2 separate regions of the Homo sapiens genome follow, and region 1 is linked to region 2. A link means that fine-mapping ties the variant in region 2 to the expression of a gene that starts in the linked region. Tissue or cell type: pancreas. Region 2 holds a variant in brackets; the other region holds the start of a gene. All regions are shown on one strand. Distances are from middle to middle.

Region 1 (5,380 bases), 51 kb after region 2:
AGACCCCAACTCAAGCTCAGCACAGTACACCCAAGACACCCAGAGGCACTCCAGCCTCAACTCCCAGCTCCGCCTCTAGTGAGCGGTGTGACTCTGTGCTGTCACCTCACCTCCTTGGGACTCAGTTTCCTCATCTGTGAAACGAGGACTGGTTCAGTCTGTGACTTCTAATGTGTGGGTATCTGACATAATCTACTGTGAAGCGAAGGAGCCTGGTGGAGCCAGGGTAGAAGAAATAGAAATCAGGAAATTAACTAACTAGGGCTTTCCTACTTTCACTCCCTGACAAGGAAGTAATCATTGCTGATACTGATTCAAACTCAGAGGACTTTCCCATACTATATCAAGGGCAGCAAATCTCCGGTTATTCAAGATCCAACAAAGGAATAGCTCAGCTAACACAGCCCCTTTCTTAAAAGAGAGAAATGATAAGCAACAAGCCCACACCTGCTATTTATTCTGAACACCAATTGCTAAAAGGTCAGAGAATCCGTTGTTTTCCATGATACCATAGATTTGGCCTGATTCTCACACCTTCACACTGTTCTACAATACAACTGTCTTTTGAATAACTCTGAGACCTAAACAAAATACAATTTTAAAAGGCCTTAGATACAGGCTAAATCATAAAAATAGTAGGCGGGCACAGTGGTTCTACATGTAATCCCAACACTTTGGGAGGTGGACATGGGTGGATTGCTGGAGCTCAGGAGTTCAAGACCTGCTTGGGCAACATGGCAAAACTCCGTCTCTACATAAAGTATAAAAATTAGCCAGGCGTGGTGGCCCGCACCTATAGTCCCACCTACTTGGGAGGTTGAGGTGGGGGGATCTCTTGAGTTGGAGAGTTTGAGGCTACAGTGAGCCGAGATCGCACCACTGCACCACAGCCTGGGTGACAGAAGGAGACCCTGTCTCAAAAATTAAAAACATTAGGTCGGTGCAAAAGTTATTGTGTTTTACATGGCCAAAAAAAAAGTAACTGCGGTTTTTTTTACGTAAAAACCGCAATTACTTTTGCACCGACCTAATAAAATAAAAAATAAATAAAAGTATTGTGGTATGGACAGTGTAACTATAACATTAACAATACAGTTTGAATTCTAATTCTTTTAAAACAGCCAGCTCTGTGGTCCAACTTTGTTTTCTTATTGAAACTTTATCTTATTCATCTACCAGCAAAAGGGCTGTTTTTGAGGATGAAACAAATTACCAGAGATGACAGCAGTTTGTAAATATATACTATTCTTCAGAAATTTGAGATTACTGTACACACAGATTTAGTATACATAGAGAATTCCACTCATATGCCAAATCTATGCCCCTGTATGCTTTCCACTTATTTATTCACTATTTTAAAATAATCGTACCCAAGTCGTTGTTTCTATTAAACCAGCAATCAAACGAAAGCCTTTGGAGCGATGAGGAGCATCTGTTTGAAAGGGGGAGGTGCCACGCTTGCTGCTTCTCTAAGCTCCCTGGGAAGGGAGAGACAACTCAGAAAACCTACAAACTGTAGCTCCTTCCGGTGCCCGCGTGACCCCCGAGTCCAGGAGCGGGCAGGGGCGCCGCTTGGCTGAGCGCACTGGGCACCCGGTCTGGGTCTGGGCCAGCCCCGCCGCTGCAGCCCGAGGGAGGCGGCGCTGCACTGGCCTCCGCGCGCTCCCAGACCCCACGTGGGGGCGCCCCTGGGTGCCGGTGCGCGGGGAACGTGCTGCGGGGGTGCTGCGCCAGCTGCCACCGTTTCCCGGGACTTCCCTCCTGGAAGATTTCCATGCGCAAGTCGAGGACGTGCTCCTGCTAGGAGTCTAGAAACTCTAGGCCAGCCCGGACCCTCCCGGGGCCTGCACTCCCCGCGGGTGGAAGCACGCGCCGCGTGTCCCTGCCGGATTCCAGAACTTCCCCGAAGGTCCTCAGCCCCGGCAGACCCTCTCCCTCGAAGTTCCCCCGCCACCCCCTGCAAGCCCCCAGGCCCCGGGGACCGCCGCTCACCTAGCCAGCGGCTCCAGACACCGGACACCGGACACCGGACACCGGACACCCGCCGCGGCCGCTCTCGCCGCCCAACCCCGCACCTGAGCCCGCCCCGGGCGCCGCGAAGGGGTGGAGGCGGGGGTGAGGCTTCCGCCCGCCCGCTCTGGCCCCTGCGCCTCCCATGCACCCATGCAACCTCCGAGGAAATTCCCTTCCCCCTACTCCCACCCCACGCACACTCTCCCCAAAGCCTCGCCCCACCCCCAGCACCTACCAGTGCTGGGCGCCCCTGGGCAGGGTGGCTCGATCACCCGCCACATCCACTTGGCCGCCAGAAGCCGTCGGGGAAGGGAGGGAGGGAAAGGCAGAGGCGTCCCAAGCGGCGCAGGCGGGCTGAGCAAATACTCCGGCCCGGACGCAAAACAGCTCTTGTAGCCGTCCCGCCCGCGCCGCCCCGCCGCGCCCACATGCCGGGGTGACTGGCGGGGCGCAATCGCGGCCCCACCCGGGCGCCTGGAGGCTCTCCAGGGCCACTCGTCGGCGAGGCTGCGTGGCCTGCGCATCTCGGGCCGCCTGGCCCGCGCGCTGTCCCCGAGCTGCGGTAGTCCGGGGTAGGCTTGTCCTCTCCTCTCTTAGTTCATGAGACAGGGATCTGCAGTCTGTGATCTCTTGGGGACTGCAGGACTTAGATTAAATCTGCAGATCTGGGCCTTTCCACGTTTCAGAGCTCGGGGTTCCTTGCTAGGTGTAGGGTAGGAGGGTGCGCAGGCCCCACTTGTTCACTCTGCTTGGGTGCTGCAGGCCAAGGCGACTCTGGAGCTTTTTTTTTTTTTCTTTTGTTGACATTAAGTAAATGATCAAACTCTTTGGCACTTGTCGGTACACGTGTGGCTTTGTAGGACAAGATGAAGGAAGGAAAAGGCTGGAAGGAAGGAGACCGCAGTCAACACAGACAGGTGGAGAAAATGAAAGAAAACTGGGGGAAAAGTTAAGATGCTGAAAGGAGTCTTGAGGATTGCAACAAGAACAGGTTGGCTTGGTGCCTGAAGACGTCAGGGAGGAGCTGGCAGTCCACAGTTAGAGGAAATCTTGGAGGAAAATTGAGCAGAAGCACAGTGGAAAGGCATTTCCACTGGAGGGCATTTTCCATCCTAGAGGAGCATGTGGAAGAAAACCGCCTGCTTTGGTGAACCCCAGATTTTGTGTATTGGGAGAGATGTAATAAACAGTAAACACCAGTAGTCCTCTCCACGGACTACCTGACCTCTTTAGGAGCCTGACCTGCTGGATTCAAACACAAAATGGCATTTCCCTGCCTCTCCAAACTGCAGAAGCTGTGCAGAGTTACATCAAGCCTCGGGGCAGGCGGCATTGTCAGGAAATAAGACCCAGCTATTTAGGAACAATTCCAGGAATCCCATCAGGGAGGAATTTCTGGTGTAAGGCTTAGTTCCTACTGCAGTTTAAATGATAGCATATGGGGTGCTTTAGGCTGGAGTGGGATTGGCCCCTGGAAAGCTGCTATGACGAGGTCAGAATGAATCCTAGCCCTGCATGGATGCATCAGTTGAACCATACAGGGTGGTTTATCAGTTAGGAAAAATCCCACAGGACACTGTGACAGCCTACCTTCCTCACACCCAGTCTCTCTCCAGGTCCTGGCAAGTCCTTCCTTATAACAGCTTTATCACTGTGCTACTAACCTCTGTACCTCACTTTCCTCCTCTAGATAAAGAGTGTCTGCCTCGGTAAGTTGTCAAGAGGGTTAAATGAGATGCTACATGCAAAGAGATTAGAAGAGCTCTTGGCATGTGGTGAGTGTTCAAACACATTCACTCAGATCAGTTCATATCACATTAAGGTACTGGAATTCCACATTCCTGCCATCTCACCCTAGGCTGTGGGTTCTGCCCACCATGCCACCTACCTTCCAAGTCATTCCCAGGGATCCTATCCTCCTGGTATTCACATCCTTGCATAGCTCCCTGCCACTTTGTAAAGGTTGGTATGCTTGACCAATAGAACCCGGCAGAAGTGATGATGGTCTGCCACTTCAGAGATTAGGTAAGGAAACACCTTGGTGCTTCTATCTTGAAATAATATTGACAGCCCAAAGGAACGCACGCTGTACACAAATAATGCAAACAACTCAGAACCCAGACTCTCTTCCCTTTTCTCTCATCTGCCCATTTCCATCCTTCTTGTCTCGTGGCTCTTTCCTATATTTGCCATGAACTCTTCTTCTTCTCTTATTTTTATAGTTTCTTCTCCATCCTCTTCACTTGGTCTCCCCTCTCCTCTATCACCTTCTCTTTTTGTTTCCTTTCTGCTGACTCCTGGAATTTCCTCTTTTAATTGGCATGGTCTGGAAGAGAAAAGGTAGATGTTTTTCCCTTAATTTCAAAAGTAGACAATTCGAATTTTTTTTTTTTTTTTTTTTTTTGAGATGGAGTTTCACTCTTTTTGCCCAGGCTTGGAGTGCAGTGATGCAATCTTGGTTCACTGCAACCTCGGCCTCCTGAGTTCAAGTGATTCTCCTGCCTCAGCCTCCCAAGTAGCTAGGATTATAGGCACCTGTCACCACAACTGGCTAACTTTGTATTTTGTTTTTGTTTTTTTTTTTTGTTTGTTTGTTTTTTAGTAGAGACTAAGTTTGACCATGTTGGCCAGGCTGGTCTCAAACTCCTTACCTCAGGTGATCTGCCTACCTTGGCCCCCCAAAGTGCTGGGTTACATGCGTGAGCCACTGCGCCTGGCCAAGAATGTTTTATAATGCTCTAAAAAAAAATCAGGTGGCCTATTACTTGTGGGGCCTTCAGTTACTTTTTCCCTCCCTTTGGGCCAGTACTCTCAGAGGAAAACATTTCCCCCCTCCATGATCTAGGATGTGTTATAGGGACGAATGTGGGGAAGACTGCTGACAGGGGCTGGCCACTGACGAGTCACAGACATGGAACATGGTAGCACCAACATGTGTTCAGGAATGCTCTGCTGCAGCGTTCACTGCCAGAACTTAAAGAGAAAGCTAAACATCTATTTATTGGTTACTAATATTTTTAATTTGTCATTTATTCGTGGTAATGAATACCATGAAACAAATAGCCTACATTTTAATGGATGTGTTCCTTGGCCTTCCTTTTGGACTGTTGCTTAGGAGCCCTGCTGCCCAGGGCTGTCAAGTAAAATGGCATAGCATGGCCCTTGTACAACTGTGGGTGGGCAGGGGACAAGCACAGAGATCACTATGTGTAAGGCGCCCCCTGGAGTTGTGCAACACTGCCAGCCCTATTGTTGCCAGAAAGACAGGATAAGCCACTTTGCACTTTTTCTGAGATAAAGATTAATCCTTATTTCAGTTCTACAGACAATGAAAATTGCCTTCATATGTTTTCTTTATAAAATAGAG
Region 2 (5,380 bases):
TGGAATCAACCTAGTTGTCCAACAATGAATCAATCAAGAAAATGTGGTGTATATACACAATAGAATATTATTCAGACATAAAAAGTATAATATCCTGTCATTTGCAATAAAAAAAATTGCTGGTGAGAATCTGGAGAAAGGAGAACTCTCATTGCCTGATGGTAGGAATATAAATTAGCATACCATCATAAACAACGGTATGAAGTTCCTCAAAAAAATTAAAGAGAACAAAAGATCCATAAAAAGAATAATGTCCTGTCATTTGCAACAAAATGGATGAACTAGAGGACATTGTTAAGTGAAATAAGCCAAACACAGAAGGACAAACACTGCATGACCTCACTCTTCTGTGGAATCAAAAAGGTTGATCTTTTTTGTTGTTGTTGAGACAGAGTCTCACTCTGTCATCCAGGCTGGAGTGCAGTGGTGTGATCTTGGCTCACAACAGCCTTCGCCTCCTGGGTTCAAGTGATTCTCCTGCCTCAGCCTCCAGTGTAGCTGGAATTACAGGTGCACGCCACACCAGGCTTATTTTTGTATTTTTAGTAAATACGGGGTTTCACCATGTTGGTCGGGCTGGTCTCGAACTCCTGACCTCATGATCCACCCACCTCGGCCTCTCAAAGTGCTGGGATTGCAGGCATAAGCCACCACACCCAGCCAGGTTGATCTTATAGAAGTATGGAACAGTGGTTAGCAGAGGCTGGGGAGAGTAGGGGGGATGGTAAATAGGGAGAGGTTGGTCAACTGGCGCAGTTACAGTGAGACAGCAGAAATAAGTTCTGCTGCTCTACTGCACAGCACGGTAACCACAGTCAACAGTAATGTACTACATACTTCAAAACAGCCAAAAGATAGGATTTTGAATGTTCTCACCACAAAGAAATGACAAGTGTTTGAGGTGATTCATATGTGAGTTATACTGATTTGATCACTACACAATATATATATATGTATCAAAACATCACACTGTATCCCATAAATACATACAATTATTGTGTCAATTAAAAACAAAATACAATTTATGAAACACAACCACCACAATCAAGTTTCGATGAACTACTAGTATTGTAATTGACCAACTTATGGTTCTTTACGCTTTTTATAACATGTGCTTCTGAGTTACGTGTGACATACTGTCAGATATATATATATATAGTTGTACATATGCATGTATGTGTATATATTATCCCTAATGATTTTCGGAGCATTTTCGAGAAAATATCCTATAATATTTACTTCCCTGGGAGGCAGACACTGCACACATACGAAGTTATATTATACATTCTCTTACTAGCTTCCAAATTAGGCTCTTTTTTGGGAAGTCCTTGGAGATCGAGCAAAACTCCACAGACACTGTAGGAGCCGGTCTGTCTTTTCCTGGGGTGGCTCTGAGGTGACCTCTGCCATCCCTGTGTCAAGTCCCAGCCCTAAAACCACCCAGTCTGACTCACAAAAAGCACTTCATGCAGTGTCTTCAGTTGGAAAAAATGAGCTAACTGAGCACAGCTGAAAATAGGAATTGCCCTTTTTTAAAGACCACCTTCATTGCTGTCAATCAAATATACTGTCCTTCAAAATGCTGTGGGACAGGGACATCTACAAGTCATTTCCATGCTACCTTTGGAAGAGACGGTGAACAGGAGTTAGCTGCAAAAACATCCCTGCTGAGGCTCTGTCGCCAACGTGCGGACAGACAAGCTCCAGCACTTAGAGCCGTGTGCACCTTTGTCAGCTGTTCTCACAATTAAGAGACTCCTATTTCCTGACTACATTTCTTGCTTTGTTGTCGGTAAGAGAAGAATCATTACCCAAACGATCACTTTGGAGATCATGGTCTTTACTGTAATTATTTCCACTTACTCCACTGAGTTCCACGTTGGTCCCCACTTCCCGAAACGGAACTTTCCAGTAGAGTAAGTAGAAATAATTACAGCAAAGAAAAACATCCGCCTTTGTGTTTCCCCTGAGGTCATCACTCCTGTTTAAAGACAACCTTGAAGATAACTACGACTCCAAGCAGGAGAAGAGTCTTATTTTTCATTTCTCCATAATCTTAGAGAAGTATTTCAAATTATTTTTAGTTTTTATTTCAGAATGCAAGGCTTTAGACAATTCTGTTTCTTTCAATCAACATTTGATTTTAATACTTCTTTCTAAATACTAGGATGTTAAAAATAAGATCAATAACCAGAAAAAAATTTAGAATCAGCAAACATAAGGGATGGGGGTTTAATAGCATCATTGCACTTTTCTACAGTTTTTCCAGAACAAATGGTTCTTCCTAATTCTTCCACAGCCTAGCAGACAATGGTATCTCCACCACCAAATAGACAATTCATCTAAAAAAGGAGGCTTTCCAAATTCTTAAAAGAGGAACTTGGCTATGTATCCGTGAATGAGAATTACCATCAAACCTTTAATCCTTGGCAGTGAAAATGTACTCCCACTGATCACACGAAAGTCAGCAAGCCTTTGGGTTCCTACTTTGATAATCTTTGACTAAGGGTGATCTTGGGCATCAGTGAAACCCCACTTGTTTCCTCTTCTCCCCTCACTGGCTCACCGGCTGCCTCTGGGGGGGAGGGGGGCGGGGGAGGGAAAGGGGAGAGTGGGGTAGGGACACGGGAAGTTCTCTCATTCCATGCACAGCTTTACTATTTCACTGGGTATACTAAGTATAACAGCTATGGACATTTGACAGCTAAAAAAGGGAGGAATGCCCGCCCAGATCACCCAGGAAGAAGGCTTAGACATGAACCTGAGCTACTTACACAGGCTGCCAGTTGGCCCTCCACACCCCATGGCAGCTCATACAATTCCCCTTTAATTTCAACGCTTATTCAAAGCCCATTGCAATGTTTATGCATAAACCCATCTGTGTGGCTTCTTACCTAAGAGGTTTTTGAGGATATGCCCCTGAGTTTAGGAACTGAGGCTTGGGTGGAAGGGGAGGTCTTTCTGGTTTCTGCGGAACACGCAAGGGG[C/T]TTTGCAGCCTCTCACCGCCTCTTCCTTTCTGGGCCCCGAGGGATAACCTCTTGTAGTCTTCTCGTGCTTGTTTAGCCAAGGAGCGTCTCTTCTCATCAGCTGCTTTGGATTTTCGCACTGGAAAAACAACGGGGTCGGAGAAAACCCTCATCAGCCCACAGAGCAGGTGAGAAGGCTCAGCATTCATTGCACAACGGGCAGCAGCGCAGGTTCTCAGCAGTTTGTTGTCTGCTTATAATAAGGAACAATCATTATCAACACCTATGATCCAGGCCATTAGGGCTTGCCCAGCGTTCGCTGCAGGATTCCTCTCTTCATACAGGACTGGGGGTTTTCTGAGAGGGAGAGAAAAGGAAGAGGAGGAAGAAGGGATGAGAGAGAAGTAGAGAAAGTGTGCAAGAATTTCCTGCAGTTGGCAAGACCAAGTGAGGATCCCCCGCCTGAGCATGGGTTCAAGCTGGCAGGGGTGCTGAGTAATAAGAGGCAATTGTCACGCCCTGCATGACTTATGTTCAGATGCAGTGTGCTTGACTCACTAGCAGAGATCAGGACTACTCAGTGGCATGGGGCTGTGCATAGGGTGAAGGAGCAGAGAGCAGGACAGAATGAGAAGCAACCTGACAGACAAAAAATTAAAGGGATGCTTAACCACAGGTAATTGTAGGACACATTAGTACACAAAAAAGTACCCCAAGTCTGCCTTTTAATATTACAGTCACTAGTGACTTAATGAGAGAAATAAATCCTGAGAAATGCATCATAAGGCAACTGTAACACAAGAGTATTTGTGTGTCTAAATACCCCCAACATAAGGCCGGGCACAGTGGCTCATACCTGTAATACCTGCACTTTGAGAGGCCAAGGTCGGTGGGTCACCTGAGGTCAGGAGCTTGAGACTAGCCTGGCCAACATGGTGAAACCCCAACTCTACTACAAATACAAAAAATTAGCTGAGCATGGTGGCAGGCGCCTGTAATCCTAGCTACTGGGGAGGCTGAGGCGGGAGAATCCCTTGAAACCAGGAGGCGGAGGTTGCAGTGAACTGAGATCACACCATCGCACTCCAGCCTGGGTGACAAGAGCGAAACTCCATCTCAAAAAAATAAAAATAATCAATACCCCCAACATAGCAAAGGTATAGTAAAAATATGGTATAGAGGACAAAAAAAAATGGTGCCTCTACATAAGGCACTTACCATGAATGGAGCTTGCAGGACTGGAAGTTGCTCTGGGATGAGTCAGTGAGTGAGTGCTCAGTGAATGTTAAGACCTAGGACATTACTACACACTGATGTTGACTTTGTAAACACTTTACACTTAGGCTACACTACATTTATAAAATTTATTTTAAAAATGTATGCAACCCATTATTTTGGGGTTTTATTATTATTTTTTGGTTTTCTGTATGTGTGTGTCTGTGTTTTTTTTGTTTTGTTTTGTTTTGTTTTTGAGACTCAGTCTTGCTACATTGCCCAGGCTGAAGTGCAGTGGTACGATCTCGGCTCACTGCAACCTCCGCCTCCCTGGTTCAAGCAATTCTCCTGCCTCAGCCTCCTGAGTAGCTGGGACTACAGGTGTACGCCACCACAACCAGCTAATTTTTGTATTTTTAGTAGAGATGGAGTTTCACCATGTTGGCCAGGCTGGTCTTGAACTCATGACCTGAAGTGATCCACCCACCTTGGCCTCCCAAAAGGCTGGGATTACAGGAGTGAGACACAGTGCCTGGCCTAAAAACTATATGCGACCCATCGTTGACCAAAACATCATACAGCGCATGACTACTTTGTAAAACAGAATTTTTTGTTATAGCAATGAGACTCAAATGCAGAATGTAAAAATGATTTTTATTGACTATATTTACACTTCAGGCAGTATTGGTCAAATCCTGTTATACTTGACTTCAAAGAGACACCCAAAATATTCCCTTATGCTAGGATTTCAGTGCATAGTACAAAGAGCCTACTGGATCTTGCAAATATTTTCATTTCACAGTAGTTGTCATTTAAATGGCATTGGTTGTAATGGGACTGCAGATCAATGTAGGATCTCAACATCCTGCAAATATAGCCATACCTGCTGTCTTCCTCAAGCCACCTCAGGTTGATCTAGCAGTTCAGATTTCTCTGAGTCAGATGGAAACACTAATTCTTTCACAAACCTAATTCTTCTAGCATTCTGGAGCATCCTCTCCTCTGCCTTCAGTTGCATGGGCTTATTCTTCTCCTATGAGTTTTCTCACCCATTCTGCTCACTCAAATAGGAGTCAAGGCTGGGTCACAGGCAGGAGCGGGATGCTAACACATCCAGCCTGGTATTCCTGTGTGCTTCTGATTACAAAGTTAAAATGTATTCACTATCAAAAATTTAGGGGAAAAAAAATCCAAAACAC

Alleles and levels. Positions count from the first base shown, and alleles are read on the strand shown. Sizes are in standard deviations (SD) of each study's normalised expression.
For the expression in pancreas of the gene that starts at base 2,379 in region 1, allele C in region 2 goes with a higher level than allele T (small effect, 0.23 SD a copy in GTEx).

Evidence for each region.
Region 1: SH2D4A starts here. The variant in region 2 is fine-mapped to the expression of SH2D4A in pancreas (GTEx, PIP above 0.99).

Annotation. Positions count from the first base shown.
Region 1 is chr8:19,310,692-19,316,071 of GRCh38, reverse strand. SH2D4A (SH2 domain containing 4A) reads right to left here and starts at 2,379. Exons shown (of 10, transcript NM_022071.4): 1 at 2,249-2,379. It overlaps LOC105379306 (a long non-coding RNA gene), which reads right to left. Exons shown (of 4, transcript XR_949550.3): 4 at 4,248-4,339.
Region 2 is chr8:19,361,797-19,367,176 of GRCh38, reverse strand. SH2D4A (SH2 domain containing 4A) reads right to left here. Exons shown (of 10, transcript NM_022071.4): 7 at 2,895-3,105. Among named protein-coding and RNA genes, the nearest start is that of SH2D4A, 51 kb to the right of the region's middle. The variant C/T (reference allele first, on the strand shown) is at 2,988.